Regions from separate parts of the Homo sapiens genome. Here region 1 is linked to region 2. Evidence: fine-mapped expression QTL. A gene starts in region 2. The other region holds a variant in brackets. All regions are shown on one strand. Distances are between the middles of the regions.

Region 1 (16,499 bases), 30 kb before region 2:
ATCTCAGGCAAGAGATTATGAGGTCATAAACCCAAGGAATCTGCAGAAATTGTGTGGAAAGTTTGAACTTTCCCATCTTGTGGAATTGGCAATGCTCTGAGGCAATCATACAGAACTCTCTGTGGATCAGGAGGGTCCTAATTGGCACCTGGTTTACACAGACAGCATGTTTCCAAATCACTCATCCCCCTTTAGTTCATCCTCCACACTAGCCCAAGTGCTTTTCCTAAATAAAGAGTGAATATTATCATGTCATTCCCCAGCTTTAAAATTCCTTATTGTCCACAATCCAAAATTTCTTACCCTGGCATCCAACACAAGGGCTTCCTCTCCTCCTCACACAGGGCACACTATCAAACATTTCATTATTTCCTAAAACACTAAGCCTTCCCTTCTGTCTGAAATAAACTTTCCCTTTCCTCTCTTTTCTCTGCTATAAACACCTATTCATTCAGACCAAATTCAATCATCCTTTCAGATTCCCCTCTCCTGTGAAGTTAACCATTCCCACCTGTGTTCCCCCAGCACCTTGTTCAGAGTACTTTCACTTCCTCTGCGTTCCTTGCAGGAAGGACTATGTCTTTTTTTTTTTTTTTTTTTTTTTGTGATGGAGTCTTGCTCTGTCGCCCAGGCTGGAGTGCAGTGGCGCGATCTCGGCTCACTGCAAGCTCTGCCTCCTGGGTTCATGCCATTCTCCTGCCTCAGCCTCCCGAGTAGCTAGGACTACAGGCGCCCACCACCACGCCCGGCTAATTTTTTATATTTTTAGTAGAGACGGGGTTTCACCGTATCAGCCAGGATGGTCTCAATCTCCTGACCTCGTGATCTGCTCACCTCAGCCTCCCAAAGTTCTGGGATTACAGGAGTGAGCCACCGCACCCAGCCAGGAAGGACTATGTCTTACTCACTTCTGGGCCCCACTGTCCAGTACAGGCCAGGTTAAGGCACTCCCCCGGCTTCTACAGCATCCTGGGTACAACTGTAATGATACCTACCATCCTGCATTGCAACTCTGGATTTGTGTGGCAATCTCCTACACTAGAAATCAGGGGCCACATTGTCTTCAATGTCAGTATTACAAGTTACTAAGAGGGAAGGAGGAAAAGAGGGAGAGGAAGAGAAGAAAGAGTAGATGGAATGAGGGAGAAAGGGAAAAAATAAGGGGAATGAAGGATAAAATAAAGTTTAAAAGGAAGTTAGACAGTGAATAAAAGGACTAGTCAGGACTCAAAAGCACTGACTAAAACAAAAAATGTTAGCATATAAGTTAGGGTCAAAAAAGGGCAAGTGAGCCGGGCACAGTGGCTCACATCTGTAATCCCAGCACTTTGGGAGGCTGAGGCAAGCGGATCACCTGAGGTCAGGACCAGCCTGGCCAACATGGCAAAACCCCATCTCTAGTAAAAATACAAAAATTAGCCGGGCGTTGTGGCACATGCCTGTAATCCCAGCTACTCGGGAGGCTGAGGTAGGAGAACTGCTTGAACCCGGGAGGCAGAGGTTGCCGTGAGCCAAGATCGCGCCACTGCACTCCAGCCTGGGCAACAGAGACTCCATCTCACAAAAAAAAAAAAAAAAAAAAGAGAGAGAGACAAGTGAGATTGGCTGGGGAGCTTTGTTCCAAGATCAAAGCAGGAGCCTGGTACATTGGTCGTAGGCCCAACTGGCAGCAGACACTCATAATTATAAAAGTCACAGTGGGGCTCAGCACAGTGGCTCACGCCTGTAATCCCAGCACTTTGGAAGGCCGAGACGGGTGGATCACCTGAGGTCGGGAGTTTGAGACCAGCCTGTCCAACATAGAGAAACCCCGTCTCTACTAAAAATACAAAATTAGCCGAGCATGGTGGCACATGCCTGTAATCCCAGCTACTCGGGAGGCTGAGGCAGGAGAATCGTTTGAACCTGGGAGGTGGAGGTTGCAGTGAGCCGAGATCCCGCCGTTGCATTCTATCCTGGGCAACAAGAATGAAACTCTGTCTCAAAAAAAAAAAAAAAAAAAAAAAAAAATCACAGTGGTTGTCACAAAGTCTCCAAGTCAGGAAGGAGTCAGACTAAGCTTCCCAGACTGAGAGGGGATCTGTAGACCTAGCTTGATAGTGGGTATAATGAAGAGCTTGACCTTGGGATCAGACATACCTGAATTAAGTCTCCACTCTGCCAATAGGTCTGGTTATTTAATCTCACAGAATTTTCTTGCCTTGAACATGGGGACATTACTACCTTACAGGATAGTATGAAGACTAGAGATAAGAGTTGTACAATAATTGGCACTTAGTAGGTATTTAAAAGATGGTGATTTTTATTATTAGGGTGTGTGCCAACTCACACACACAAGTTTGGGTGACTATGTTTAAAATATATTGTGTGGAGATTTTCAAGGAATCAGAAAATGTGTATGAAATAAAAGTGCTTGGTAAACAGTAAAGTACCCTATAAATATAAATGAATCATTTGGGAAGTCTTTTATAGTTGGATAAAATACAGGACTTGAATTTGGGCAGTAGTTCAGGTCCTACACCCCGCATTTACTTGCTCTGTAACCTTGGGCAAGTCCCTTTCTTTATCAGCCTATTTCTACATACGGCAAATGCAAGTCACTCTTAGTTGCTGTGAGAATTCAATAATGAGTGTAAAGTTCCTGGCACATCTCTTACTGGTGAACGGCAGGGTCCCCATGTTAGGTAAGGTTATGGGTGATGTCAGTTCCAAGCCCGGTGCCAGAATCACACTCTGCCAACTGGCTACAAATGAAGAGGGCCCCTCACTCTGGAAGAGTAGGGCCCCAGATTCACAAGAGAGGTAGATAGGGGTCTTTTGTATTTGTTAGAGGAAGGGTTCTTTTGTATTTGTTAGAGGAAAACTGGGTGAACACTAAACTTCCATGTAGAAAACACTGAAATCTGCCATGTGGAGCCAGGCCTAAACCAGGAGGACAGGAAACCAGACATAATCCCTGCTAAGCTGTTCCAGCCTTGAGGACTAAACTATTGCTACTAAAAGCAAAGACTCTCATTATGGGTTTTAAGATTTCTCTCACCTTATCCCACCCTTCACCCTGTACTCCCCGTCACTGCCGTTTTTCCTTGGCACAGAGTAAGTGCTCAATCAATAACATTGAGGCCAGGTGTGGTGGTGTGCACCTGCAGTCCCAGCTACTCCATACACTGAGGTGGGAGGATTACTTGAGCCCAGGAGATCAAGGCTGCAGTGAGCTGTGATCACACCACTGCACTCCAGCCTGGGCGACAGAGCAAGATCCTGTCTCAAAATAAAATAAAGTTGACCTCAAAATAAAATAAAGTTGAAAACGTTCTCATGCTTGGCACTGACTTGCCATAGAGCAAATGGCCCAAGGCCATATGAAGAGGCCACACTGGCTCCTAACTCCAGGCAAGTCTCCTAAGTGGCTCCTCCTTCAGAAGCCAAAAGGTAAATGTAGTGAAAAGAGCAACAGCTGGCAGTCAGGGAGGCCCAAGTTTGAACTCTGCTCCACAACGTACTTGCTGTATGACTTCACAGCAAGTGACTTTATCTTCCCTCACTTTCATGTCCTCTTCTTATTCCTTTGAGAGTTGCTGTGAGAACTACATGAGATAATGAATGTAAATGTGACTGACAGAATTAATCGCATGTAGTGGATGCTCAATTAATGTTAGTTCCTTTCCTTTCCCCCTTCTCCTCAAAGGCCCCAGAAACTCAGTCTGCTTTCCTTTGCTTTTCAGAGCATCTACCCATCTGTCTTTCTTAGAATTCAAATCCCTTCCAGAGTGGGTTCAGTGGGACAATCTCCCCAGCTCCCCACTTCCCCAAATAAGTACACGGGTCCTTTTCATTGAAGGGTTTTACTGCTAATCACTCTGGGGAAAACAGAGGCAGGTTGGGGGAGGGATAACAAGTAACAAACATGGGGGAGTGTGAAGGTCCCTGGGTCATGGCTCCCTGAGGGTTTCCCTTTCATTTCTAAGGTGGGACCTCAGATCTCTTCTCCAGACCAAGGAGGCCCCTTCCATTGAGAAGGTCACTCCTCCCACCCCAGAGATCTAGAAGCAAAGTTGGGGCACAACAGGTGGGAACTAGCAGGAAACTGCAGTGCACTCCTACCTAAGCAGTTCACAGACAATTTGGAGAACCTTCAGACAGTGACACCCATCTCATAAGTACTTCCTCAAAGGCCAGGGGGACTGCTGCCTTAATAACATGAGCATGTTCTGAGCCTACCCTATTTCTCTTTCACCCCAAGAAAGTAAAGCCAAGACTGGGTCTTCTGACTTTCCAACACGAGAAATTGGCCTGGAAAGAGGCAAGGGTTTTTATTCCAGAGTCCCTCCTCAGGACTTCCTGAGATCCTGACTTCAGAGGCTATACAAAACCATTCTCCAAAGTGGGATGAAGGGCTTGAGGTCAAGGTAGCAGCAAAAGATGCTGAAGATCTTCCTCCAATAGGTTAGGGTCTCTCACTCTCTCTCCCTCACTCTAAATGGGGCTCTCCTTCAGCTGGAATCTTTCCCAGCCTGTTCGCCCAAGTGAGTTTTCTGGTGGCGGATGAGATTCGAGCTCCGGGAGAAGTGTTTCCCACACACAGTGCACCGGTAGGGCTTCTCCCCTCTGTGGGTCCGCTGGTGTGCTCCAAAGTTGGAGATATCGCTGAAGGTCCGCCCACACTCAGTGCACTCATAAGGTCTCTCACCTGTGTGGGTGCGGTGATGCACGCCAAAGCTGGAGCTGTTGCTGAAGCTCTTCCCACACTCACAGCAGATGTAGGGTGCTGGCTCCAGGTGGGTCCGGTGATGCACAGCTAGCGTGGCACTCTGGCTGAAGCTCTTGCCACAGATGTCACAGCGGTATGGCCGCTTGCCTAGGTGATCTTGCTGGTGCGTGGTGAGGTCTGAGCGCCGCCGAAAGCTCTCCTGGCACTTGGGGCATTTGTAGTGTTTCTCTTCCAGGTGGATCCGCTCGTGCCGGATGCGGTTGGAGCTTCTCGAGAAGCTCTTGCCACATTCAGAACACTTGTAAGGCTTCTCACCAGTGTGGATCCGCTGGTGTGTTCTCAGGTTGGAGGTATTATTGAAGGTTTTGCCACACTGGGCACATATAAAGGGCTTCTCATCTGCCTCATGCCTTGGATGAGCAATGGGGTCCCCTAGCTCTCGAGCCCGGACAGTGACTTTCTGCCATGGCTTTTTTGGATGAGTTTCTTGCAGTTCATCCGACAGGCTCTCTTGCCCATGCTCCTTCTCCCCAGGTGGGATCCAAGAACCCTCTGAGTCATCCACTCTCCAAGGCTTACCCCCTTCCCCTTCCTCAGGCAGGTGTGGTTCTGGACTCTGCTCCTTCTCACTGCCCATCTCTGAACCCTGAGAATGAACACAAATGGCCAACACCTTTATTCTTTGGGTTGGGCCAGATCACAGGGAATCTTTTGTTCAGTTTGAAGGGTATACACCTTCCCCATGGGACCATCCATTAGAAATAACCTCAATCAACTGGAATACTTGGATAGAATACCTTTACTTGCTACCTTTTAAGTGACAAACTTTCAGAGATATTTAAAGCTACCCACCAGAGCAAAAAGAAGGCACCGGCTTTGTCCACCACCACCAGATGATATTTGTGCCATTTGAATAATGTCACTCTTCTTGAAACCACTAAGCAATGACAATCCAGACTATAATTCATGGGCAAGTAAAAGAGCTTTCATTTTGGGATAAGTTCAATTTTTCTGCCTAACTGTAAGTTAACTGTAACTCTTTTTATGTTTAATCCTTTTTGAAAAACCTTCCTTACAAGTATCTACCTATATGCCTGCTTTCAAAATGAACAAAACAAAACCTCTAAATCTTGAGGCTTTCCTAGGTGACAAGGCCCAGCTTTGGCTTTTCTTGAGATTTCTGCCACTCTACCCCTCTCCAGCCCACACCAGAATCTAGCAAGTAAACATCTGGGTTAATACCTGGGACCTCCAGGACCTACTGTGGGGCCTGGGCTGTGTTTCTTCTGATCAGTCAGTGCCCTCCACTACATTCTCAAACACCATACAAAGCCCCACCCACACCCCCCGCCCACACACGCATGCATGCACACAAGCAAGCAGAATCACACAGACACAGTCACACCATACACAAAGCCATATTCTCACGTAACACGGTCATACTCACATACCTGACATACTCGGTCACATTCTCATACCACACACAACAGCTATACACCTACACACCACACACAGCCATACATTATCACACCACACACATACATACTACATACACACTCATACCACATATAGCCACATACCACAGCCACACACATATATAGCTACATACATGTCTATACACATATACCCATACACCACACACAGACACACACTCACATACCAAGTACACACAAAGATAAACACAGACACAGACACACAAACCACACTCCCCACACCCCACCCCAAAACTAAACACATAAGAGTGCCCAGTACAGGTCCTGATTTGTGCAAACATCACTAATGTGTGCTAAGCTGCACAGACTCCTTTGGGTTCCTACAGCCAAGGACAGGGAAAGAGTTGGGGGGAAAAGTACCTCTGATGAGAGTGGTAGCATTTCCTCCGGGCCTTGAAGAAATAACGACATTTCAGCAGAGTGGGTTGGTGAACAGAGTGACATGAACAAAGGGATGAGGGAGGGAAGCACAAACTATCATAGGACACTGATGATAGAAAATGAAAGACTGATAATTCCTTCAAGTCTGCAAGTATTTCTGGAAAAAAGAAACACAGAATAAAGAAAGGGGTACTGACTACATTTAGGGTTGGATTACAACTGTGACACATACTATCTTTATCGCTCTCTGCAAATTATTCAACCACTCTGAGCCTAAACTCCCTCTTCACTAAAATTGTGATACCTACCCACACTACAAGACTTTGTATTAGAAAAAAATGCCTGTAATACTCAGCAGAGTGTGTGACACATGCTGTCATTCAGCAAATGGCAGCTGCTGTTACAACTGTTGAAGACACTACGTCCAGGCCCTGTGAAGAATACAAGAAAAAGATCTTTTAAATGATCTCATTAAGAAAAAACTTTTAACTTAAAAATAGCATAAAACTGTATATAACCTTCTAAAATGTGAAATACAGACAGAACCTCAACTCTTTAAGAACCAGAGGTTGACAAGCTTTTTCTGTAAAGGGCCAGATAATATTTAGTAAATATTTATGGCCATGGGATATCTGCTGTAACTATTCAATTCTGCCACTGTATCATGAATCATGAAAGCAGCCATAGACAAGACATAAAGGAATGTGTGGCTGTGCTCTAATAAAACTTTATTTAAAGCAACAGGAGGTGAGCTGTGGTTTGCCAATCCCTGTTAGTGTTCCTTGAAGAATTTAGATAAGAATATGAAAAATAATTGGTTTGCTTTACTTCCAAAAATGCAAGTAAACATGAGAAACTATTCCTTGATACTTAGACACTGTTTCCTGACCATCCTTTAAAAAATTAAAATCACTCCCACACTCCCAGTCCTCCTGCCCCATAGCACATCTTACCTTCTGACATTCTCTTTATGTCTATTATTTATTGTCTGCTTCCCTAAAACATAAGTTCCATGAGAGCTGGTGTCTTTGTTGTTTTTTTGTTTTTTTTTTAATTTACCAATGTAACCAAAACTCCTAGAGTAGTGGCAGCCATATACAGTAGATCCTTCATAAGTATTTGTTGAATGAGTTGAATAAAACACCAGCTCTGTCTTCATGGGACACAAGTAACCATGAACTGTCTCACCCACTTTTCCTCAGCAATCTCCTGATTCCTGCCTACTTTCTCCTTTATGCAGTCACAGAATCTTGTGCTTGGCTTATAGTGGTTTGCAACTACTAGTAGAACATGTCTGTTTCTATTAGTAGTTTATAAGCAACTTGAGGAAAGGGACTGGGTCATATTAGTAATCTCCTTCTGCAGCATAAAGCTGGGTGCTCAAATGTCTTTTGAATGTATAAGTGACAGGATGTGATCTTAATTCACGCCACCATCCCATCCCCCACCCCCTGCCCTGCTCCCATCTGACCTACAGCTACAGTATCTCTACGCAATGAGCTATTCAGCCTCCACTCACTTCCGAAACTGCTATTCTGAGAACCTATAATTTACCAAGTTCCAGCTCTACCCGGGGCTGGATGCTAGGTCAATGTAAGAGCAAAAGGATTTAGGATTATGATTACCACTCAGTTTGTGATACAGTGTACTGAAACAGACCGTGAACTCCAGAAATTGTCATACAATGCAGAAGGTTAAGTTCAGGGGACAGGGGCAGGAACTGTGCCTTAGTCACCTTTGTACCCACTCCTCAGTGTCTAACACAGCACCTGGCACATTATTAACATTTTTTTAAAGCTCGAATCAAGTGCTAAGCTGTGGACTAAGGACCATATATGAATCATCTAATTTCACTTCACATCATCCTTATTTTAGAGATGAGAAAGCTGAGGCTCAGAGAAATTAAGTATCTTGCCCAAGGGCACACAGCAAGTAAGTGGCAGAACTGGGGCCTATGCCCATCACTTCAAAGTCAGTGCTTTTAACCATTATACTATTACTGAAGGAAAAAAGGAGAGAAGACGGGAAGGAAGGAAATAAAAACAGTACCACTGAAGTTCACATGATACAGATGTATCTCCCTGATGAAATCAGGGCTGAGAAGTTTCAAGGAGGAGTAGGTATTTGACCTAAGGTTTGCAGGATGGGTAAGACTGGGACTTGCAGAGATAAAGAGGCAACTACCTACTGAGAAGACAGTGCAGCTGAAGTACAGAGGCACTTTCATATCACACTGCAGAGATCTGGGGGGAAAAGGGGTCTATTGGGCTTTGTCTTCCTGGTGGCTCAGCTGCACAGAGAGAAGCAACGGTGGAAGGGGCTGAGAAGTGGAGGAGGGGCCAGGTCTAAGAAGTTAAGAGCCAAGAAGATGGGGCTAGTGATCACAGATGATGAAGGTGAAGCGCCTAGGTTAAAGGCAAGGGGCCAAGCCATAGTGCGGTATGGAGGTCCGAAGTTACAGGTCTTTGGGGCCAAGTCAAGGGCTGCAGGGAGGAAGAGGAGAGAGGAGCTATGAAAGACCAAGAGCAAGGTGCTAACAGGGTAATTGTACAGGGAAGCTAGATAACGGGTCAGAGATACAGGAGGACCAAGGAAGTCAGAGGGTCGCAGGAGACGGTCAGGGAAGAGGAAGCAAAGGCTGCCAGAAGTGTCACAGGCCAGGGCCCAAGAGCTGAGTTGTGTGTTGCGGGGCGGGGAGAAGCCAATGGCGGAGGTCCAAGGGTACAAGAGCTGGTTTCAGAGATTGCCGGCGGGCTTGGGGCCAGAGAGGTGGGAGAGGAGGAGGGGCTGATCCTAAACGTATGGTCAGCGGCAGGAAGGCTGTATACTCAAACCCAACAGAAGGGCCGGGGAATGGGTTGGGGACAGCCACCTGGCTGCGTGGGCCGGGGGCCAGGGCGAGGGTCGCGGCGGAGGGACCACAAGGCCCCTTGGCTTCCCACTCGGTCCAGGGAGCAAAGCAGCAGCATCCAGATCCTCGGTGAGAGGGAAGTGGCCGTGTACAGAGTTTCCCGCGAAGTCGTGTCCGCCTCCCCCCGCGACCTCGGGCCCAACCCGGACCCACCTCGCTCCCGCCGCTCGATCAGGGACAGCGCCGCCTCTGTAGGCGAGGGAAGGAGCTGGAGCCGGAGCCGGAACCCAGGAAGGATCCGCCCTACTACTCCAGGATTGGTTTCTTGGGATAATTCTTTATTTCCATTGGCTACCATGACTGCCACAACGCAAGCGACCTGGCAGGACCACCAATAAGCTTTGACCGCTGGCGTGGCATGCTGGGAGTTGTAGTCCTAAGGAAGCGCGTAGACTCAGAGAAAACTTGCGAAGTTTAGGATGGAGCTGAAGAGACTGGGTTCCGTCCTACGGTGGGATTTCTTTCCGTGCTCGCGCGTTCAGCCCCAAGTCTCAGGGCCACTCGTCTGGGAAGTTGTAGAATCTGTATAGCCAACCTACACAACCTCCAAGGGGGCAAGTACTCAAATTTCCTTCTTTACTTTGAGTTGGTAATCCTTGACCGTCCTGTAGACGTCCAACGAAGCCTAGAGTCTGGCACCTCACTCAAGGTTTATAACTTAAAATCAAAGGAGGGTAGAGCTGGAAGGGAGTTTAAAGATAAAATAACCCAATCTCCTTATCGGAGAAGCTAAAAGTACCCTGTTCAAGGATCAACCTCCAGGTCTTCCAGCCCCCCTGAGCAGGGATTTTCCCGGGTTCCGCGTGCATCCCTAATTAAGCCTGACACGTGTTCGTCAATCCAGACACAACAAGATCACCAAAGTATCCAGGACTAGGTCTTTTTTTTCAGGTTTTATTTTTTAAAATAATAAAAGGC[T/C]AATGAAATACGTAAACTACAGGCTTCTCGTATCTGCACAATGTTTCAGTGCAAAGAACAAGGAGCATTGCCTTCAGAGCTAGATAAACCAAGTATAAAACTCTGGCTCTACCACCTAGCCATTTGGAGTACCAACTCCCTCCCCCATAAAATCCCTGGCAGAATTACTGTGAGGATATTATATATACATACATATATTCTCATGCATGTGTATGTGTATACATATATACATATATATGTATGTATGTTTTATATAGTTGTAAGGTTATAATACATACATATATTGAGGTTATTTCTTGATGACATTAATATTCAAATCAGTAGACTGATATGTATGTACATATATACATGTATAATACACATACATGTGTATATACATATACTAATGTATACATGTGTATATACATGCATACATGTGTGAATATGTATTATACATACATATGTATATATGTGTATACATATACACGTGCATACATGCTAAATACATATACATATATATACACCTATGTAGTACAGATATGTATATACACATACATGTATACATGTGTATATGTGTATGTATGCATATGTGTGTGTATATTATATGTATATTCATGTATGTATGTGTATATGTATGCATGTATTCTGCCTCCACAAGCTGACAATGTGAGTTAGTTTTAAGATTGGGATATTCAGGAATGCATGTTTGGAACTGAATATGGTTGAGTGAAATATGTGTGCCTTATGAACACTATTTGTTTATAAATTGATAAAATAAAATACTAGAGAGCAGACTCAGGAATAAAACTATGGCTTTAGTATGAACGGTGGCTAAACCTTGCCTTGGGGGACTCAAAGCTCTTTGGAAACCAATCTCTTACCTTCCCCACAACTCCTCATTCACAATGAAAATAACAGCATACCAAAACACAAATACCAAACTTTTATTTTAAAACTGTACAAAAGCAAACAAAAAATTCCACTGAGTCACTGTGATAGTTAATCTTATGTATCCACTTAACTGGGTCACAAGATGCCCAGCTATTTGGTCAAACATTATTCTGAGTGTTCCTGTGAGGGTGTTTCTCAATGACATTAACATTCAAATCAGTAGACTGAGTAATGCAGACTGTCCTCCCAAATGTGGGCGGGCCTTGCTGAATCAGTTGAAGGCCTGAATAGAACAAAAGAGCTAACTCTGCCCTAAGAGAATTCTTCCTGCCTAATAGCCTTTGGACAGGACCATCAGCTTTTTCCTTGCCTTCGGACTTGAATTAAACATCATCTCTTCCTTGGCGTCAAGCCTGCTGCCATCAGACTGGAACTAAACCATCAGCTCTCATGGGACTCCATCTTGCTGACTTATCCTGCAGATCTTGGGATTTAACCGCCTCCATAATCACGTGAGCCAATTCCTTATAATAACCACCGCCCCCCTGCCCCAATATATATTGATTCTGTTTCTCTGGAAAACCTTGACTAATACAGGAACTAACGGAGAACTTCTGACAAACAGAAAGATACAGTTTCTGTTGGATAGAACTGTGTATTCATCTGCAAACTGATAACCAATATCTCCATGGTTAGGCCAGATCGCATATATGATGTGACTTGAAAGCGACGAGGCTTCTGCAATACACACCCAAAAATCAAGGTCATTATTTCATCCTCACACCTAGTCTACCAACTTCCTATTTGAAATCAATACTCTCCAACCTAAGAGGCTGTTTGCTACACAAATACTCAAGTATTGCAGTACAATGGTCTTGTGGGGAAAAAAAAGCTTCTACGTTGGTGGTTAAAACTGCCACTTTTTCTAGCTGGACCTCTCTGAATCTCAGAAAGGGTTGGCACAACAGATTGATTCATAAGACAGTCACAACAGACTCAACAGACTGAGCCTCTGAAGGTCTGGGCCAAGGTCAGAGGGCAACATACAGCTGAGTTCTCTGCAACTGTGTTTCCCAGCTCCCTGATGTGCTCCTGGGGCTTTTCAGGATTATAGCAACTGTATTTAAAGTCGCTGTACCTAGTTACCATCAACAGGCAGATTAGCTTTTGAAAGCATGTACATTAGCTCTGGATATCACCAAACTATGTTGTAAACAGCATCAAGAAAATAGAAAAGGATGGTATGTTTTACTCATCAGCCTTTCCCAATTCATTCCTGAAGAAAGAGGGAAAGAGTGAGTGGTCTAAAACATGCTTGCTTTTAGAGAGCTGACTTTGGGGGGCAGAGGCCAGAACTGAGAGAGAGAAAGGCAGTCCTCAATGGGATAAGTAAGAAGTCAGGGACTGGGGGCCATAACTTCTTGACTAAAGCTTGAGGGCAGGATGAGGCAGAGAAAGTGTCTTCTAAATAACCCCTGGAGTAGCGAACTCTTTTCCCTGAACCTGTGCTGTATCTTGGTAACACATATTCAACATCTCCACCTGCACCTAAACTGATTGTTTGGTTTCCAGGAATCCTCCCTCCAGGTCACTGGGAGCTTCAATTCCTTAGAAGAAAGGTAAGCTTCAGAACTGAGGCCTGGGAGAAAAGTGGTACAAATAGAAACCACAAAAGGGTCTGGATTTGGGTTAAGGTGAAGAGACGTTCCATAATCATGGGGTTGGGCCAGGCGACTGAAGTCCAGGGTGCTGGGCTGGATGGTGATGGGAGCAGGTAATGTGGCATATCCCTAAAAAGAAGGAGCCTTGAGCTCCTGAAGGGCTGGGCCAAGGTCAGGGGGCAAGGACAGGATTATATCCTTCAGCTCTGGGGCCTTCGGGGGTAGTAAAGAAGAGTTCACCTTGAGGGACACATCTCCATTAGCATGGCCTTTCCCTTCTGGCCTGGGGACAATTGATTCCTCTGATTTGTGTAGTTCTGAACAAATGACTAGAGGTGCTGTGTTTTTTCCTCCATCATGAAGGCAAGGTTCAAAGAAAGGGCGAAGGGGGCCAGAGAAATTGTGGGTGAAAGTAAAGATGTGGGACTTGTTGGTCACATTGTAGAAAGAGATGACTCCTGCTTCATAGTCCAGGAAAATCCCCACACACCGTGGAGGCTCTTTAAGGCGGAAGGAGGTCTGCGGGGATGTGAGAGCTTCATACTCATTCCCACGACTCTGTCGCAGAAGCCAGTGTCCATTGGCAGGTGAGGCAGTAACCTTCCCCTTCCTGCTCACTGACTCACTACATACTCCAAGAATCCATTTGGTCTTGTCTCCCACATACACCTCCCAGTAGTGGCAGCCAGTCGTGAAGTACTCAGAGCCTAGGATGCTGACAACGAAATCAAATCTCTGGGGGTTGTCAGGTACAGGCTGCCGTCTGTCTCCAAGCCTTACACATCTTTGGTCCTCAGAAAGGATGAGTTTGGGATGTGCTGTGTCTGGGTCCAGGGTCACTGCCACTGCAAAGAGACACAGACAGGTGAGGCTTGGAAGTATAGGTCTTAAGGGATTTGGGGATGGCTTTGGAGGGAAAAAGAATCTTAGGTCTGCCATCACTGTCATTAGCCCATTTTAGTTCATGGATTCCCGCCCCCACCATGTGTACTGGAACCAAAGAATATTCTCTTTCAAAGAATAGGTCTCCTGGTCGATTACTAAGTAATAGAAGAAAAAGTTCTTCTTCATCTGTCTGTGAAACTGCTTTAATCCTCAGGAAATAACTACCTGTTATGATTTAAGTGTGTCCCTCAAAAGTTCACGTGTTGGAACCTTAATCCCTCATTGCTGCAGTGTTCAGAGGTAGGGCTTAGTGGGAAGTGTTTGGGTCCTTCACAAAGAGATGAATGCAGTTTTCACAACACTGGGTTTATTTCTCTGGAGAGCAGGTTATGATAAAGCAGGTCAGGGCACTTTGTCTCCTCTCTGCTTTTGGAGGCACTCACTTGCCCTTCTGTTCTTCCAGAAGCAACTATCACCATACTATGAAGTAGCACAAGCCCTTCACCAGATACAGTCGCCCAATCTTGGACCATCCAGCCCCAAGAACCATGAGCTAAATAAACCTTTTTCCTTGATAAATTACCCAGTCTCGGGTATTCTGTTATAGCAACAGAAAACAGAGTAAGACACCACATTTGTCTTTGATGTTCCAAAATAATCAAATGTGTGATGATAAATACAGGGTTTGTTGTTAGATCCTGTAGCCACATAGCATGTTTGAATCCCAGCTCTGCCACATGCTAGTTATGTGACCTTGGGCTTGTTACTCATCTCTGAACCTTAGTTTCCTCATCTGTAAAATGGAAATAGTAACAGAACCTGTGTTGTAGAGCTATTGTGCAGACTTGATGAACTAATGATATAGTGCCTCATTCCTACAGTGAGTGCATGATATTCATTCTGTCACCTAAAATTATTACTTATAATTATCTGCTTTATTTTATTTTATTTGAGGAAGGGTCTCACTATGTTTCCCAGGATGGAATGCAGTAGGTATTCATGGGCATGCAGTCATAACACACTACAGCCTTGAATTCCTGGCCTCAGGTGAACCTCCCACTGCAGCCTCCCAAGTACGTAGGACGAAATTATTATTTTTAAATGTTAATATAGAGAGAAGGATTCTTCCCTAAAATTGTGGATTATGAGTGTCACAGTGAGTCTCCTTCCTTCCCCAAATACAGGAAACAGCTTCTTCTTAGAGAGTTAAGTCTATAAACCATACACAGTTGAGATGGTGGCAATAAGCCAGACTGTAAATGTGAGACAGAAGGGTTTGTAAGTTCCCAGAATGCCAGCCAAGGTGACCTGGAGTTCTCTCGAGTGGCCAACTCATAATTTGTTGTACTCTGCCTGAAGGAAGATGGTGTGAACAGGAGGAGGATAAAAGCCTAGAAAATTGATAAGGATCCCAAAGCAGTGAAAAAAACAGGTCCCATTTGAACAGCAGCAAAAAATGCAAACTATTTAGGAATACATTGAAAGAGAGGTGCAAATCTTTTCATAATGTATATTGTTGGGGCATCTGCTCAACCCATTCCCTTCTTCTCTGAGAATCTCAATCACCACCCCTAAGCAAATTGGTCTGCAGAGAAAGAAGAAAAAGCAAATGTGTAGAAAGAGGCGGAAGCAGTGGCTATTTATCTGGTTGTGGGATAGGAAGGACTTCCCAAACCTGAAAGCATGGAAGAGACTACACAGAAAAAGATGAATGAATTTGACTACGTAAAAATAAAACACTTATGCATCAGAAAAATACTATAAGGAAGTACAAATGAAAAGTAATGGTGACAAATATGACAAAGAGCTAATATACTTTATCTAGAAAGAGTCTTCACAAATCAAAAAAAAGCCCAAATAGAACAGGAACAGACAAGTCACACAAAGAAGAAATACAAATAACTGATAAACATAGGAAAAATCTCAAAAACCACAGAAAACCCTTAAGAAGACCAAACCTAATATTATCAGTGCTCTAAAAGAGGGGATACTTTCTAAATCTAAATATGACCTCAAGATCGATCACAAAGATTTTTTTAATTTGATAGTCAGATATACAGATTTGATTTAAAAATTTTTAAATTACCTGCATTCCAGAGGAATGGAACAAAATCTAAGGTTACAAAGCCATAAGGAGGAAGTGCTCTGAGATATGGACCTATTTGATTGGTATAACTTACCAAAATGCAACCGGGCTCTTCTCCAGCCTGAAAAATGAGAAAAGGGGATCATTAAAGTACCAGAGACATCAAGAACTCCTGTAGGGTGGTGGTCAAATGTGGAGAAAGTGCATCTCACCTGAGTTTGCTGCAGCTCTTTTCAACTCTATGAAAGAAGAAACAAGGGGAATGAGCTATCACTGCAAATATTAGGGCAACAGGAGATAAGTTGGTACGGAAGTTACAAGAACATGGGAAACTTACTCAGTTCACTCCGGAGTTTCTCTAAAGAATGAAAACAATTTGGCAAATCAGAAGGAGGGCCTCTATGTAGAGGCCCTCCCATAATGCTACAGTCCCATCCCAACCATGAGCAGACAGATACTCAATAGCTATACCCTGGAACTTCCCCAGAAGAGTTTGCAAGAGCAGTAGATCCCAGCTGTGGACCATGGGAGTATCCCCAGAGATACTGCAGAGGATCAGCAAATTCCTATGTGAGCCAAACCT
Region 2 (16,499 bases):
ATTGTAACAGATGTTCTCTTGACAGTCCCAAGCAGTTTAATATGACCCTGCAAATCTGCAATTGATCAGTCTAAAAGCACACAGCACAGCGTCCAGCAAATAGTAAGAGCTAAATAAATGTTGGCTTTAATTTAATAATGATGACAATACTACTTAAATAAGAGTACTTCAACAAAACCCATCCAGCAATCTTGTCACTTGTCTCCTTTTGTGTTTCTTTAGTGATAGCTAACAACTGCCCCATTTCACCCTTGAAAATGTTCTTGTGCGTAAGGAGAAAGGGGATTATTTCTCTACTAAACCTGAGGATCCTGAGAAAGTTAAAGGACTAAAAAGCATGAAGAGAGAGAGGAGGACTCACCACCTTCTGGATCAGGGACGCTTGTTCCTCTCACAGGCAAAGCTGGAGTTTGCAAGCTGGGAACACTCCTTCCCCATGCAGAGAGACCAGGGAGCAGGCAAGCGCATCAGGAAGGCCTAGGGATGTGGGCCGGGAAAAGTTCATATTTTATGAAATATGAGAGGCCAGGGCTCTCTCTGCCCCCACAGAACTCCCTTCTCGCTGTCCCTGTAAACCAGCAAGCCACACCCTGTCTGTATGCCCCTGATAAAAGAACAGAGCAAAGAGGAGGCTCCCAAAAATGAGGGAACCACTGAGTATGACTGACCGGGTAGGAGGCACGTTTGCCCCTCCACTCCCTTTTCCTCCAATGCTGCCAATAGTAATTCCCTCTGATGCGTTTTGATCCTATCACATTCTTTCTGAAAACCTTCCCCCTTTACTTTTCAAATCAGAGTAAATTGGAAGATTGGTTTCAAAGACATCCACCAATTAACCACCTTCTTTAACTCACTATCTTTATCTCCAGCTACACCCTGACATGTGCCTTCTGATAAGCAAGCTTGCTGTTTTCCAACATGTGATAAACGCTTCCCGCCTGTCTTGCTTTCATAATATCCTTAGCTGTATGTTCATAATCTCCATAATTATATCATTAACAATACATTACACATTTTTATGTCCTTTGAACTTTATAAAGATGGAGCCCATTGTACATAATTCCCAATTATTCCCTTTTTTTATTCAACATTAGCTTCTGAGTCTAGCAGACATCTGTGGTGGCCCACACCATGTCCCCTCAGCCCACCCAATTTTGGTGTAGCTGAGACTTGCAGGCAAGCTGCTAGCATGTCACCTCATAGGCCATGGCATTTTTCTGCTTGCCTGTCTTGGGGCTTTCTACAAAGCCTTGGAAGGCTGTGCAGCCCAGAAGTTCACCAAAGCTAACACCTCGGAGACATAAACAACAGTGAGAGGAGTCAAGACAAAATGCTCCAGGCTTGCACCTTCAGCTCTGAGCTGTATTCGACATGATTCCTCTGAGTGTTCCCAATGGGAGTGAGCACGGTGGTTCATAGTGGTAAGTAGCTCCGTACTGCACCTTTTATTGACTTTTCTTCCTTTTTTGCTCATTCCCATTTCTGCTTCCTGGGATTACCTCCTAAATACACTCTTGAACTGAAGTACTTGTCTCACACCTCACACTCTGTTCTGGGGGTGTACAAATTAAGACACTGAAATTAATCCAGGTTGTTTCACAGAGCACTAGGATATTCATTCACTGCTATATAGTAGACCATTATATAAATCTACCAACAGTTTCTCTCGTCCCTTAATGATAGAAATGTGGGTTGTTTCTGGGCTTTAGCTTTTATAAATAATACTGTCCTGAACATTCTTTTTTTTTTTTTGAGACAGAGTCTCGCTCCGTCGCCCAGGCTGGAGTGCAGTGGTACGATCTCGGCTCACTGCAAGCTCCGCCTCCTGGGCTCATGCCATTCTCCTGCCTCAGCCTCCGGAGTAGCTGGGACTACAGACGCCCGCCACCACGCCCAGCTATTTTTTTTTTTGTATTTTTAGTAGAGACGGGGTTTCACCGTGTTAGCCAGGATGGTCTTGATCTCCTGACCTTGTGATCCGCCCGCCTCGGCCTCCCAAAGTGCTGGGATTACAGGCGTGAGCCACCGCGCCCGGCCTCGTGCCCTGAACATTCTTGATAGGTATTTCCTGCTCACATGTGCAAGAATTTCTCTAGAGCACCAGTTCTTAATGTGTGGTCCACAAACACTTGAAGTCCCTGAGGCCCTATCATCCAGGTTAAAACTACATTCATCATAATAAAGACGTTATTTGCCTTTTTCACGGTATTGACATTTTCAAGGACACTGCAAAAGCAATAGTGGGTAAAACAGCTAGCACAAATCAGGAAGTGGCACCAAACTGTAGTAGAAGTTACAAATTTTATTAAATTTCAACTCTTAGATACACATCTTTTTAATAGTTTGTGTGACAAAATGGGAAGGATGCATAAACAGTTACGCTGCATATCAAAGTATGATGACTTTATCGAGGAAAAAACCTTAAGTGATTGAGTTGTGAGCTGAAGTAATCGCTTGACTCATGGAGCACCATTCTTACCTGAAAGTACAGCTGAAAGACAAAGTATAATTATTCAGACTTGGGTATTTGGCAGGCATTTTCTCCAAAATGAATAAAGTGCACCTGTCACTTCAGGAAAAGCAACTGACAGTGTTTGTTGTCAATGAGAACATTCAATCTTTTGAGCAAAAATTAGAATTTTGGAAAATTTTTATCTGCTGCTTGATACCCTCACAATAGCAAAAGACTTTTCTGATGAGATTGGCATTGATATTAATAAATGTGATTTTTTGATGTTGTATAATGAAATGTGTCAACATTTAGAAGATCTGTAAAACTCAGTGACTCAGCAATTTCCAAATGACCAATGGGTGTGTTGACAAAACCCTGCATGGGTAAAACATTCATTTAAAATGCAAGAAAAAACTGTGAGTGTTGCTGTAATAGAGTATAAAAAGGTCATTGCTATGGTTTCAGATTTCATGTCACAACTAAGCTTTAAAAAACTACCACTTGCTGAGTTTTGGTGTCTTATCAAAGAATATCCACGATTATCTGAAAAAGCTACTGAAATGCTCCTTTTCCAATTGCATACACTTCAACCACAAAACATACTGCAGCAGATTGAAAGATATAGCTGGCTTGAGAATACAGCTGTCTTCTATTAAGCCAGACATCTAAAATATTTATAGCCATTAAAAAGAATAAAATCCCATCATTCAAAGTGACATGGATGGAACTAGAAAACATTACGTTATATGAAATAAGTCAGGCACAGAAAGTTAAACACCACATGTTCTCACTCATAGTTAGATGTTAAAAAAAAAGAAAAAGTTAATCTCATAGAAGTGAAAAGCAGAACAGAGGTTACTAGAGGCTGGAGAGGGAAGGGGAGGATAGGGAGAGATTTGTTCAATAACACAAAATTACAGCTAGGTAGGAGGAACAACTTCTACTGTTTTATAGCACTGTAGGATGACCATAGTTAACAATAATATATTATGTAGTTTCAAATAAAGAAGAAAGGATACTGAATGTCCCCAAAACACAGAAATGATAAATGTTTGAGATGAATATGCCAATTACCCTGATCTGATCACTACACATTGTATGTATCAAAATATTACTCTGTACCCCATAAATATGTACCATATGTGTCAATTAAAAATTAATTAGGGCTGGGTGCAGTGGCTCACGCCTGTAATCCCAGCACTTTGGGAGGCTGAGCCAGGCGGGTCACCTGAGTTCAGGAGTTCAAGACCATCCTGGCCAACATTGCGAAATCCTGTCTCTACTAAAAATACAAAAATTACCCAGGCGTGGTGGCACACGCTTATAATCCCAGCTACTCAGGAGGCTGAGGCACAAGAATTGCTTGAAGCTGGGAGGTGGAGGTTGCAGTGAGCTGAGATCACACCACCACACTCCAGCCTGGGCGAGAGAGTGAGACTCCATCTTAAAAAAAAAAAAATTAATTTTTTAAAAAGGATTTATATAAATATAAAGCAGTGCTACTCAGTAATATTTTTGTTTCAAAAAAGTTGCTTTTCATAAATATATGTTTTGTTGTTATATAATTTATTATTTTTATTTTTAAAAGTAGTAATTATATTTAATTTTTCTTAGTTTTCTTTTTTTTTTTTTTTAGAGCTAGGGTCTAGCTCTGTTGCCCAGGCTGGAGTGCAAAGGCACAATCATAGCTCACTGCAGCCTTGAACTCCTAGGCTCAAGTGATCCTCTTGCCTCAGTCTCCCTAGTAGCTAGGACTACAGGTGCATGCCACCAAGCCCAGCTATTTTTAAAAATTTTTTTGTAGAGATGGGGTCTTACTACGTTGCCCAGGCTGGTCTCAAACTCCTGGCCTAAAGTGATCCTCGCACCTTGGCCTCCCAAAATGCTGGATTACAGGCATGAACCACCACACCCAGTCAGTTTTAATTTTTAATATGGAAAATTTCAAAAAATATAACTCATATAAACTGAAGCTCCCTGAGGTCCTCAATAATTTTTAAATGTAAAGCGTTTCTCAGAATATATACCTAGAAGTAGTATTGCCAGGTTATAGATGATACTAAATTGTTTTCCAAAGTAATTGTACCAATTTATAACTTGTCATAATTAATATTTTTACTGCTTTCTCCAGAAGCATTTTATCAGATAGTCTAAATCACATCATAAAATGAGTTTCTTATCTGAAATGTTCTTTTTAGACTTCTAACTCTATGAGTGAGAAAAACAGATACAGACATAGATAAAGATATCACTCATAATCGTAATCTCAGAATCCAGTAATAATCACTGTAATTTTTTTGGTCTATATGCTTCCTGACTTAAAAAGAGGGAGCTCTAGATTTCCAGTTAAATAAACATGTCTCATTGAACACAAATGCTTATCTCTGTTACCTCCCAAAATGATCTAAAATGACAATCTTGGAGTGCAAAAGGAAAAGCCTATAAGGACAAAGAGAACAGGACAGTAAGTAACTGTGCAATAGAGATGTCAATACATTTCTTTAATGAAGGAAAGCAGAGGGCTCACTAGTAATAGAGCTAGGAAAAACTGAACTCTAACCCAGGTGCCTGCAGAGGGAGGCAGGATTGGGGGAAACATCAGATAAAGGGTTCCTGACATCAACCCTTGACATCAGCAAGAAGAAAGCTGATTCTCAACTGAGAACCTTCCAGGCTTGGGATGGGAGGGACCAGGGCCTGGCTCTACCTCCCGGGGTTGTTGTAAGGATTAAATTAGCTAAAACATGCAAAATACTTAAAATAGGGGCTGATACTCAATGGTAGCTGTTATTGTCTGAGGATAAGCTCCAACTTGAAAGCCAGAGACCAAAATAAACAACAGAGACAATCTAGGAAGCAGAAGAAAACAGCAGAAAATTACAACTGGAATCCTCAGAAATATGAAATAAGAGAAGATCCTGAATCCACAACATAAGAGCAAGAGGCTACCAAAAAGGAAAGTCGGGGATCAAACAAAAACTCTTGGAAATTAACATTTTTGTAGCAGAAATGAAAAAATTCAATAGAAGAACCAGGGGATACAGCTCAGGAAAATCTCTTGTAAATTAGAATAAACAAAACCAGGAAATGGAACATGAAGAAAAATTTAAAAACAGGGAAACTGGCTGGGTGCAGCAGCTCATGCCTGTAATCTGAGTACTTTGGGAGGCTGAGGCAGGAGGATCACTTGAAGCCAGGAGTTCAAGACTAGCCTGGCCAACATAGGGAGACCCTGTCTCTATTTGTTAAAAAAAAAAAAAAAAAAAGAGAAACTGATCACAGAGAACGTTTCCCAGAATTGAAGACTTTGTTTCCCAATTGAAAGGGGCCACCGAGTGCTTAGCATAATGAATGAAAAATACTTAAAGGACAGTTTGTTATGAACGTTCAGAACATCAAGGATAAAGGAGAAAAATATCCTAAACAAATTAACAAATTAACAAACAAAATATATGGGAAGTAACACAAGTCAGAATAAATCAGTCTCCTCAAGAGTAGCCACATGAGAAGCTAGATGACAATGAATCAATGCCGTTAAACTTCTGAGGGAAAATAATTTCCAATGTGGAAATCTGTCACTCAAGGATGAAAGAAAATAAAGCCATTTTTAGACAAGCAAGGACTCAAAAATTTAGCTTCCATGAACCCCTTCTGGGGAGTTAGTGGAGAACATACTCCTCCAAAATGAGAGAATAAACCAAGAATGGAAAAACATAAGATCCAGAGAGCAGGGGATTTGGCACAGGAGAAACAAGAAGAGAATCCCCAGAATGTGGTTAGGTCCCTAATCCTAGGACAAGAGCTGTGAAGCAAGGCTAAGCAGAGGAGTTTGGAGCAAAGAGAGGATGAGTCTAAGGAGGGATGCTGCCAAGAAAAAAAAAAAAGACACTGGTAAATGACCTGGTTCACATCTGTAGTACCAGCCACTGAGGGGCTGAAGCGGGAGGATCACTTGAGCCCACCTCTGAAAATAAAAAATAAACAAGGGATGCATAGATCATTAAGCAAATAAAAATAGATAATTTTTTGACTCTAGAAAAAATATTATTCAATAAAGTGAATATAATCTTAGTGTAGTATATACCTCAACTGTAAAAATATTCTAGTTATATTACTATAAACTCTTGCTAGTCATTCAACAAACCAGGAAATTCTGCAGCCTGGCCAAGAGTCCACTGGTAGACACAAAAGAGACAGACAAAGCATAAACTCATGGAAAGAATAGAGAGGGGACTTTGACAGTGTTCAGCCTCAACATTCACTCCCTCCTGGCTCCAACCTTCACCTTCCCAATAAAGAATGTAGAATCCCAAACTGGTATCTCCAGTTCCGTTCTTTTCTGAAATCTTCTAATTGCTCACTGGACAATTCTTCTTGCCTATTGCCACTTGAAGCGTAATCTAGCTCTTTCTCTCTCTCGGTCCCTCTCTTGCGCGCGCGCACACACACACACACACACACACACACACACACACACGCTCCTAACTTATCCTCTTCCTCACCGTTTCCCAAACCAACTCATCACACCTTCTCCACTTTCAACAGTGGCTCAGTGGCACCACTACTTTTCCAGTCTTCCATGTGGCTTTTCCACTCCTCCATTCCCTATAGCTGGTTTGTTTTTAGCTGGCTTCTAAAGGTCCTGCCGTGTCTTCAGCTGTAATCTAGTTCATAGCTTATATGAACGTTATAAACCATACCATGTGACACAAATGTAAAATACCAGTACTACATCAAGATTTCTGAAATAGACTCTGACTTGGTTACTTTTATTAATAATAATCGAATCAGCATTTGTATAGGGTTTTTAAAAAGACATTTAATGTACTTTCCTCTGATTGCTAAAGTATAAACGTTTACTGTAGAAATTTTGGAAAAGCTGGGCGCAATTGCTCACATCTGTAATCCCAGCACTCTGGGAGACTGAGGCAGGAGGATCACTTGAGCCCAGGATTTCCAGATCACCCTGGGAAACACAGTGAGACTCCATCTCTACAAAAAAATTTTAAAAAATTAGCCAGGCATGATGGTGTGTGCCTGTAGTCCCAGATACTTTGGAGGCTGAGGTGGGAGGATTGCTTGAGCCCAGGTTACAGTGAGTTATGATCACACCACTGCACTCCAGCCTGGGTGACAGAGCAAGACCCCATCTATTTTTTAAAAATTAAATAAATAAAAAATAAACATTGTGCAGTAGATCTCTAGAACTTTTTCACCTTACAAACCTAAAATTCTATACCCTTTAAACAATTCCTCTTTTCCCTCTCTCCTAGCCACTGGCAGTCACCATTCTACTTTCTGTTTCTTAGACTTTGATTGCTTTAGATACTTCATATGAATGGAAACATGCAGTATTTGTCTTTTTGGGGCATTGTGCTCACTTTTAAGGCTTTTGATACCTAGTACTAAACTGACCTCCAGAAAGGCTGTTAACGATTTACAGTTTGACTGGAAGCGTGTGTCCATCTGGGCTGAGTTCATTGCTTGCTTAGCATCTATCAGTTGTTTCAATTCTTGCCAGTTTGATAGAGGAACAAATAGTGGACCCAAACAGGGTTTTACTTTGGATAAGGCCATTGTCCTATGAATCCTGGCTGAAATATTTGCTCCAGCACTTAGAAGCTGTGTGACCCGGGACAACTCACTTAACTTTTCAATGCTTCTGTTCCCTTATGTGTAAATGGGGATAATAATATACACGTATACATTATACACACTTATTATGAGGAATTAGTTAATAAATGTGAAGCTGTAAGAACAGTGCCTGGAATATAGTAAGCCCAAATGTAAGGTAGCTATTATCATTTTTGTCAATCCTTGCTAATGTAATACCTGGAAAATTACAGCCAGCTATTTTAATTTACATCTCCTCGGTAATCAGTTGAACGTGAATGTTCTCTGTATTTATACTGGCTATTGGTACTTCTGTCAAGATTTCCTTTTTCAAAGCACTGTGGCAAACGGGATCTCACTTGATCCTCCCAATAAACTCATGAATGAAGAAGGTGGCAATCATCAATCCCCACTTTTCGAATTAAGAAATTGAGCCTCGGAATTCGAATTCTGAGCAATTCCAATTCCAGGATTCGGATCTCACCCTCTAAAACCTAGTAGCTGTTGCAGAAAATATAACGGGAAAAAGCTTTGGTTAGCCGTAACCACCACCCACCCCGGTGTGGCTCCGCCCCTGCCCCGCCCCGGCACCGGCTTGCCCCGCCCCGCCCTCTACGCGGGTTTCCAGCCATCCTCTCTGCGCACGCGCGGCCGCTCCTGCGGGCGGAAGCCTCCTGGCGCTCGGCCCTGCGCCCCTCCCCCCGGCGCGCGGCCCCGCCCAGGACGAGGGGCGGTGGGCAGGCAGCGCTGGGTCCAGTGGTCGGGGGAAGGCGAGGATTACCCTCCCGGAGGCGTTGTCTGCGACTCGGCGGAGGCTCCAACTTCCAGTGGCCCGGTCGGGAAAGGTACAGACTCCCAAGCCTCTTGGTCGGCGGCTCCAGCGACCGCCATTTTCCTCCAGGAGAGGGAAGAGGGCAGGAGGCGGGGGCCGTCCCCTGGGGCCGGGCGGGCCGGGGCGGGGTCGGGGGGCCGGGCGGTGGGGGGCGGGCCCGGCTGGCTATGGGGCCCGGCCCCCTGGCCCCAGGAGCGGCTGCTGCGGCGGAGTTAGGCCGGCCGCAGTGGGAAAACCCTGGGCGCCCTCTGGGTCTCAGCGTCCCATTAGGACGGTTCCGCGCTGGGTGCCGCACGCCGCACAGTGGGCAACGCTTTCACAGGGGTCTTTGCATTTCACCCGCACACAGCAGCTCCTGGAGGGAGGCCAGGAAAACACTTAACCCATTTTGCAGACAGAAAACTAAGGCTCAAAGTGGGGAGGAGACTTGCCCAGGGACACCCAGCGAGGTTGTGGCCTTGGGACTCGGTTCCTACTCCCCCACATCCAGCGCCCTTGCCACCAGACCACTCTGCCTCACCTGGCAAAGGATGGGGCGGAGCTAAAGGATTAGAGGAGTAACTGGCAGGGTATTTTTTGTTTTGTTTTGTTTTGAAGATCTGCCTCTTTCTGTACCACCCAGATCAGAGCCTCCTAAGAAATATCCAGAAGTCAAGCCATGGATCCACCTGCACGTAAAGAAAAAACCAAAGTTAAAGAATCTGTCAGCAGAGTTGAGAAGGCCAAACAGAAATCAGCCCAGCAGGAGCTGAAGCAGAGACAAAGAGCAGAGGTGAGATTAAGGCGGAGGCTCTGTATGCCTGTAGTCTGCTGGAGATGATGCTGGAATAGAGAAACAGCAGAAAGGAGAACTGACAGCGAGCCATACTTGCCTCCAGGCAGGATGGGTGTTCTCCCAGGTTTAGAGGGGACAACACTGAGGTTCAGAATGGTGAGGTGGCAGCCCAGAATCACATGCCAAGTTAGTGTCAGAACCCCAGTCTGGTGCGGAGCTTTTGTGGTAAGAGACCCAAGGGAAGGAAGAAAGGAAAAAAAATGATATGTAAGGGGAAAGAAGGGGTCAGAATGAGAGAGAGCACGCAAGTGTCAGACACCCCCAGTACAGATGTTCTGGATTTGGTGCGGAAAGCAGCTACTCATGCCAGGTAGAGGCCCAAGCTTTAAACTCACCAGTGTGTTCCTTTGTTCTCTCAACGATTACAATCAACTTGAGAATAAAAAGCTTTAAACTTTACCCTGCCAATATTGAGCCACATACAGACATAAGTATTTTATTTTAGTATTTAATGTCAGGGAAAATCTTGCTGGTCTCTTTTTCCCTCTTTGTTTTGTTTATCTGTCTGCTTTGTTCATTTCCTGTCTTACATCCTTTTACTTCTCCATGGACAACTACTTTTTTTTATACTTTTACATTCAAATATATTAATAGATATCCTTGAACAATATACAGTAGTATTTTAAATTTTTACATTAATAAAATTCCTGCATTTTATTTTGCATTTTGCTTACATTGTTTTTTAGAACTATTCATGCCAATATAAGAATTTAGTTTATTCTCATTAATTTTTATAATAGTCTATTTTATGCATCCATTTTACTTAGTATATTTATTCATTCTTACAGAGATGCACATTTAAATTATTTATAGTATTTTTTGCTATTACAAACATTGCTGTAGTGAAAAGCTTTTAGGTGTCTCCTTTGGCACCTGCCTTAGAATTTCTGTAGGTTATTTAACTAGAAAAATTACTGGGTACATTCTCAATTTTACTAGACATTGCCACATTGCTTTTTTTTTTTGAGATGGAGTCTCTTTTTATTTTTTATTTTTTATTATTATACTTTAAGTTCTAGGGTACCTGTGCACAACATGCAGGTTTGTTACATATGTATACATGTGCCATGTTGGTGTGCTGCACCCATTAACTCGTCATTTACATTAGGTATATCTCCTAATGCTTTCCCTCCCCCCTCCCCCCACCCCACAACAGGCCCTGGTGTGTGATGTTCCCCTTCCTGTGTCCAAGTGTTCTCATTGTTCAGTTCCCACCTATGAGTGAGAACATGCGGTGTTTGGTTTTTTGTTCTTACGATAGTTTGCTGAGAATGATGGTTTCCAGCTTCATCCATGTCCCTACAAAGGACATGAACTCATCCCTTTTTATGGCTGCATAGTATTCCATGGTGTATATGTGCCACATTTTCTTAATCCAGTCTATCATTGATGGACACTTGGGTTGGTTCCAAGTCTTTGCTATTGTGAATAGTGCCATAATAAACATACGTGTGCATGTGTCTTTATAGCAGCATGGTTTATAATCCTTTGGGTATATACCCAGTAATGGGATGGCTGGGTCAAATGGTATTTCTAGTTCTAGATCCTTGAGGAATCACCACATTGTCTTCCATAATGGTTGAACTAGTTTACAGTCCCACCAACAGTGTAAAAGTGTTCCTATTTCTCCACATCCTCTCCAGCACCTGTTGTTTCCTGACTTTTTAATGATCGCCATTCTAACTGGTGTGAGATGGTATCTCATTGTGGTTTTGATTTGCATTTCTCTGATGGTGAGTCTCTTTTTTTTTTGAGACGGAGTCTTGCTCTGTCACCCAGGCTGGAGTGCAGTGGCGTGATCTCTGCTCACTGCAACCTCTGCCTCCCGGGTGCAAGCAATTCTCCTGCCTCGGCCTCCAGAGTAGCTGGGATTACAGGCGTGCACCACTGCCTTGGCCTCCCAAAGTGCTGGGATTATAGGTGTGAGCCACTGCACCCGGCCGATATTGTCAACTTTTAATTTTTGTTAACCTGATTCATTCATTAAATATTGGCCAGGCACAGTGGCTCACACCTGTAATCCCAGCACTTTGGGAGTCCGAGGCAGGCGGATCATGAGATCAAGAGATTGAGACCATCCTGGCCAACATGGTGAAACCCTGTCTCTACTAAAAAAAAAATTAGCTGGGCGTGGTGGTGCTCCCTGTAGTCCCAGCTACTCGGGAGGCTGAGGCAGGAGAATTGCTTGAACCCAGGAGACGGAGGTTGCCGAGATTGTGCCACTGCACTCTAGCCTGGGCGACAGAGCTAGACTCTGTCTCAAAAACAAAAAAAAAAGAAAAAGAACTGCTAGTATGTGCCAGGCACTGTTCGAGGAATTTGAGTCACATGATGACAAAGCAGAAAAGAATCCCTGCCTTCATGGATCTTGCATTCCAGCAAGGGGAGGCAGTAAACATAATAAGTAAACTTACTAGTGCATTTGAAGTTAATCTGTAAACTGAAATCTACCTTTGGGTTAAGGCAGACCCCCTGAGAGCTGTGGTCCTTTACCTTCCCATTCCCACCTGGATCCGGGTCCTCAGATGATATGACTGCATTGTGCTTTGGTGAACAATATGAGGGTTGCTATAAGAAACAGCCCTGAAGCAGGAGAACAGAAGCTACAGATAAGAAAACCATTGATCAGAGAAATGGTGATATAGCCAAGGGAGCTCTCACTGGAGGAACAGAGCTATCTATACTTCCGTGTACAACAAATGCTCTGGGAAATGGAGAACCAGTTGCCAGCCCATATGTGGTTACCTCACACCAATCAAAAGTGACTGTGGAGAGCACCCCCAATTTGGAAAACCAAATGAAAATGGAGTATCTCTGTTCAGAATGAAAATTTTGAAGAAATTATAAATTTACCCATTGGATCGAAACCATCCAGATTAGATGTCACTAACAGTAAGAGCCCAGAAGTTCCTTTGAATCCAGTTTTGGCCTTTGATGATGAAGGAACGCTTGGGCCCCTGGCTCAGGTAGATGGTGTTCAAACACAACAGACTGCAGAAGTTAAATGCGTATTTTTTCTGAAGAACCAACGTCAAAATTTAACGAGAATTTCTATAATTAATGGAATTCCTTTCATGCTATAAAAGAGCATCCCCTCTTCCAGTTTTCTAAAGATTTCTTGACCATCATTTTGAAAAGATTTATTTAAACTAGCTAAAGACAACAGACAGGATAGCTTTCCTAATAATTTTCATCAGTAGAAAAAAAATACTCCTCATTCTTCAGTACTTTCAAATGGCTTTTTCCAGTGTGCTCCTTCTTAGCAAATTAGTATTTTTCTGCGTTATTTAAAAGACAAGAGGATTTGGCTATAAAATGATTGACTAGGATTGACTAGGCATGATTTTTTTTCACATAGTTTGGTCTTAAAGCTTAACAGCTTAAAATTGGCAAAAAAAACTTGTGCCTTTTACCATGTAATACTTGAAAAGTAAGTACCTCTTTGCTACAAGTAGAATGAATAGGGAAAAGTTTAAGCCTGTTTTTTTAAAAATATTATTTTAAAGAGCTCTATTTGTAGAGGCAAATTATAGGCAGATTACCAGTTTCTTATAAATACAAACTTGTACATGGACATTCTGCAAACCCAGCTGTCATATTCTTGCAACTACTTTTGCAAAAGCATACTAAAAGGTTTTAAAATGTGAAAAAACATTATTTTTTCAGAGCAAGAAAATAATTTACTGTTGTCTTCAATAATGTGTAAAGTTTTTCCAGATAAACTAATCAAATAAATTAGAACAATGTGACAACATTGCAAATTTGTCATTAGATGCATTCCTTCTAACGTTACCAGGGGAGGATGTTACTGATGATTCAAGGCTGTTTCTGAAGTCTGTGTGTTGCTACTGTCCCCAGTGATGGTGGGACTTACCTCTGTCCTACTTGATCACAAATTATGTTAGGGGGAAATAAAGATTTAATATTTCATTAAATAAAAAAGAAATTTGGTTTTGCTCATTTAAGAGCAACAAGAAAATGGTGGTGTGTTGACTGTGTTTGGCCGCAGGGCACAGACCTTTATGGAAGTCCTCGCTCTGCATGGCATCCACCAGCTTTTCACCTTTCATTCTTATTCTTCACTTTTGCTGCTGAGCCTAGCTGTACAAATTTGCACTTTCATTTGCTAATGTAAATTCAATTTATTTTACCATTTTAGAGACTACTAATGATTAAATGTAAGAGAGGACACATGTTTTTATGTGGAGTGTTAAAAAAGATAAATTTATACCACTGTAATGTGCTGGATTTATTAAAAGAGATTGGTTAAACTGCTCGGTTGAATGAGAGACTTCCTCTATTGTACTCTTTTTTTTTTTTTTAAATCCAAGGATATTGTCTTTAGTAACAGCTTGTAACTTGTTAAAACATTAATTTGGGGTTTTTCCCTATTCTTAATTGTCTATGTACACATAGTAATTATGTTAAAATCCGTTTTTAAAAAAAACAGCCCTATGAAACTGTCCTCTGTGCATATTGTAAGGATAGATGTTGAGGACATTGTTCATGCCCTTATTGACACCCTTCTGTAAAGTTCTATAGGTTAAATTTATTTGTCTGACTTCAAATCTCAGCTCCTCCATAAATCCCAGTTCTTCCATGTGACGTTGGACAAGATACTTAACCTCTCTGAACCCCCAGTTCATCAGTTCCTCCTTGGTAAAATGAGGATAACATCTACCTCAGAAGACCATTAAAAGGAATAGAAATACCACGTGTAAAGCCCATAGCGCAGTACTTGGCAGAGGAAGCATTTGATAACTAGCAGTGATTATGATCAGGAATAATCTTGTGTTTCCAAGCAGGCAGCCTGCTCTTATTGTGTGGACCCTAAATTGAACAACTGCTGAGTTCCTGTTGACCTGCTGAAATGCAACGTTGCTGCACTCAAGCAGCAGCTGGCCCCGTGCAGCTCTTGAGATGTGCCAGGACCGAGCCAAGCCTACACATGCATAGCCACATGTAGTCCTCACACCAGGGCTCCAAAGCAGGAGTTATTGTGACTCCCATTTAACCTTGGTTAATCCGATATGTAAAATATATGGCCTTGTGAGGTAGGCAGTATTATCCTCACTTCAAAGGGATGTGAGTAGAGTCCTGTAGTTAAAGAGGGGCAGGCCTGTGGTCTAAACATCTTCTGACTTTTGTCTGTTGTTTTTTGCCTTGCCCCCTACAGCTGCCTTGCTGTTTTTTTTTCTGTTTGGTTGGTTGGTGTTTTTGTTTTGTTTTGAGACGGAGTCTCGCTCTGTCACCCAGGCTGGAGTGCAGTGGCACGATCTCGACTCAGTGCAACCTCCACCTCCCAGGTTCAAGCAATTCTCCTGTATCAGCCTCCTGAGTAGCTGGGATTACAGGCACCCGCCACCATGCCTGGCTAATTTTGTATTTTTAGTAGAGATGGACTTTCACCATGTTGGTCAGGCTGGTCTCGAACTCCTGACCTCAAGTGATCCGCACACCTCGGCCTCCCAAAGTGCTGGGATTACATATGTGAGCCGCCGCGCCTATCCTGTTTGTTTTTAATCTTTATTGCCTGGAATGTAATGCAACAAGACCCTTTGTGGGGAGGAAGAGACAGTTTCTATTCAATTCTGCAGACGCCAGATTCCAGAAAGTTAGATGTGAAGGAGAGATGTGGGAGGTGAATGGGAACGGAAGGCACATTGGCAGTGGAAGCACCGTTTGACACTGCTAGGGTCCGTTTCCTTCTTGACTGAGAGTCATTCTTTGGCCTGGACACCCTGACCCATTGTGAGTCTCCTCTTTCTCCTACCATCTTGCCTCCTTGATCTGGAGGTCTCTGAGAAGCTATTTAATTTGCATCTCAGTCCCTAGTACAGTAATGTGCAGATTAAAAATGCTCAGTAAATACTTAGTGAATGAAGCAAGCAGAGGTTTTCAAATATATATGTATATATGTGGGCCCGGGCACAGTGGCTCACACCTGTAATCCCAGCACTTTGGGAGGCCAAGGTGGGCAGATCACGAGGTCAGGAGATCAAGACCATCCTGGCCAACATGGTGAAATCCCGTCTCTACTAAAATACAAAAAATTAGCCAGGCACGGTGGTGCACGCCTGTAGTCCCAGCTACTCAGGAGGCTGAGGCAAGGGAATTGCTTGAACCAGGAGGCGGAGGTTGCAGTGAGCTGAGATCGGGTCACTGCACTCCAGCCTGGTGACAGAGCAAGACTCTGCTCACAAAAAAAATATATGTGTGTGTGTGTGTGTGTGTGTGTGTGTATGTATGTATGTGTGTGTGTGTGTGTGTGTTAAAAGTATATTTATATAATGTGTGTATGTGGCTTAAGAATAAAACACCCAACTATAGAACGTGACCAGTAACTGGGAAGCTTTGTGTACTCCTTTCCTGGTCATGTACCTCACCCTTCCCACCAGCAGTACCCTCTTTGCTGTATTTTATGCTAATCATTCTTGCTGTTCTACGTTAATTTACTGTCTGTGTACCTCTAAATATTTTGTTGTGTAACAATATATTGTTTTGAATGTTTCTGACCTTTTATATATGTTACCGTGACTGGCTGTCTTCACTCAGCCTTTTTTTAACCATTCAAGTTTATTTATTTTTATTATGGTAAAATATACATAAAATTTACTAGTTTCATCAGCCGCATTCTGTGTTTCAAGAATCATTTGCGGTAGTGTTAGTAACTATTTTCATCACTGTGTAGAATTCCATTTTTCTTAAAGATGACAGGAATATTCAAGCTTTCTAGTCAGTTTGGATCATTTTACTTTTCCTAGGAA

Alleles and levels. Positions count from the first base shown, and alleles are read on the strand shown. Sizes are in standard deviations (SD) of each study's normalised expression.
With allele C in place of T in region 1, the expression in pituitary of the gene that starts at base 8,978 in region 2 is lower (moderate effect, 0.64 SD a copy in GTEx).

Evidence for each region. PIP is the estimated chance that this variant, and not a neighbour inherited with it, causes the effect.
Region 1: its variant is fine-mapped to the expression of ERMAP in pituitary (GTEx, PIP 0.95).

The regions. Positions count from the first base shown.
Region 1 is chr1:42,839,808-42,856,306 of GRCh38, reverse strand. ERMAP (erythroblast membrane associated protein (Scianna blood group)) reads right to left here. Exons shown (of 12, transcript NM_001017922.2): 9 at 16,254-16,274; 10 at 16,129-16,155; 11 at 16,011-16,037; 12 at 11,316-13,790. The coding sequence ends at 13,075. ZNF691 (zinc finger protein 691) reads right to left here and starts at 9,694. Exons shown (of 4, transcript NM_001242739.2): 1 at 9,650-9,694; 2 at 6,894-7,016; 3 at 6,565-6,742; 4 at 3,830-5,357. The coding sequence starts at 6,648. The coding sequence ends at 4,494. ZNF691-DT (ZNF691 divergent transcript) reads left to right here and starts at 9,893. Exons shown (of 5, transcript NR_186083.1): 1 at 9,893-10,050; 2 at 11,623-11,796; 3 at 12,857-12,903; 4 at 13,391-13,532; 5 at 14,294-14,412. RefSeq lists enhancers at 9,658-9,727, 9,888-10,157. The variant T/C (reference allele first, on the strand shown) is at 10,415.
Region 2 is chr1:42,809,601-42,826,099 of GRCh38, reverse strand. It overlaps ERMAP (erythroblast membrane associated protein (Scianna blood group)), which reads right to left and starts at 8,978. Exons shown (of 12, transcript NM_001017922.2): 1 at 8,847-8,978; 2 at 362-477. It overlaps SVBP (small vasohibin binding protein), which reads left to right and starts at 8,703. Exons shown (of 3, transcript NM_199342.4): 1 at 8,703-8,910; 2 at 9,520-9,669. The coding sequence starts at 9,556. RefSeq lists silencers at 8,560-8,849, 9,000-9,199, 9,760-9,829.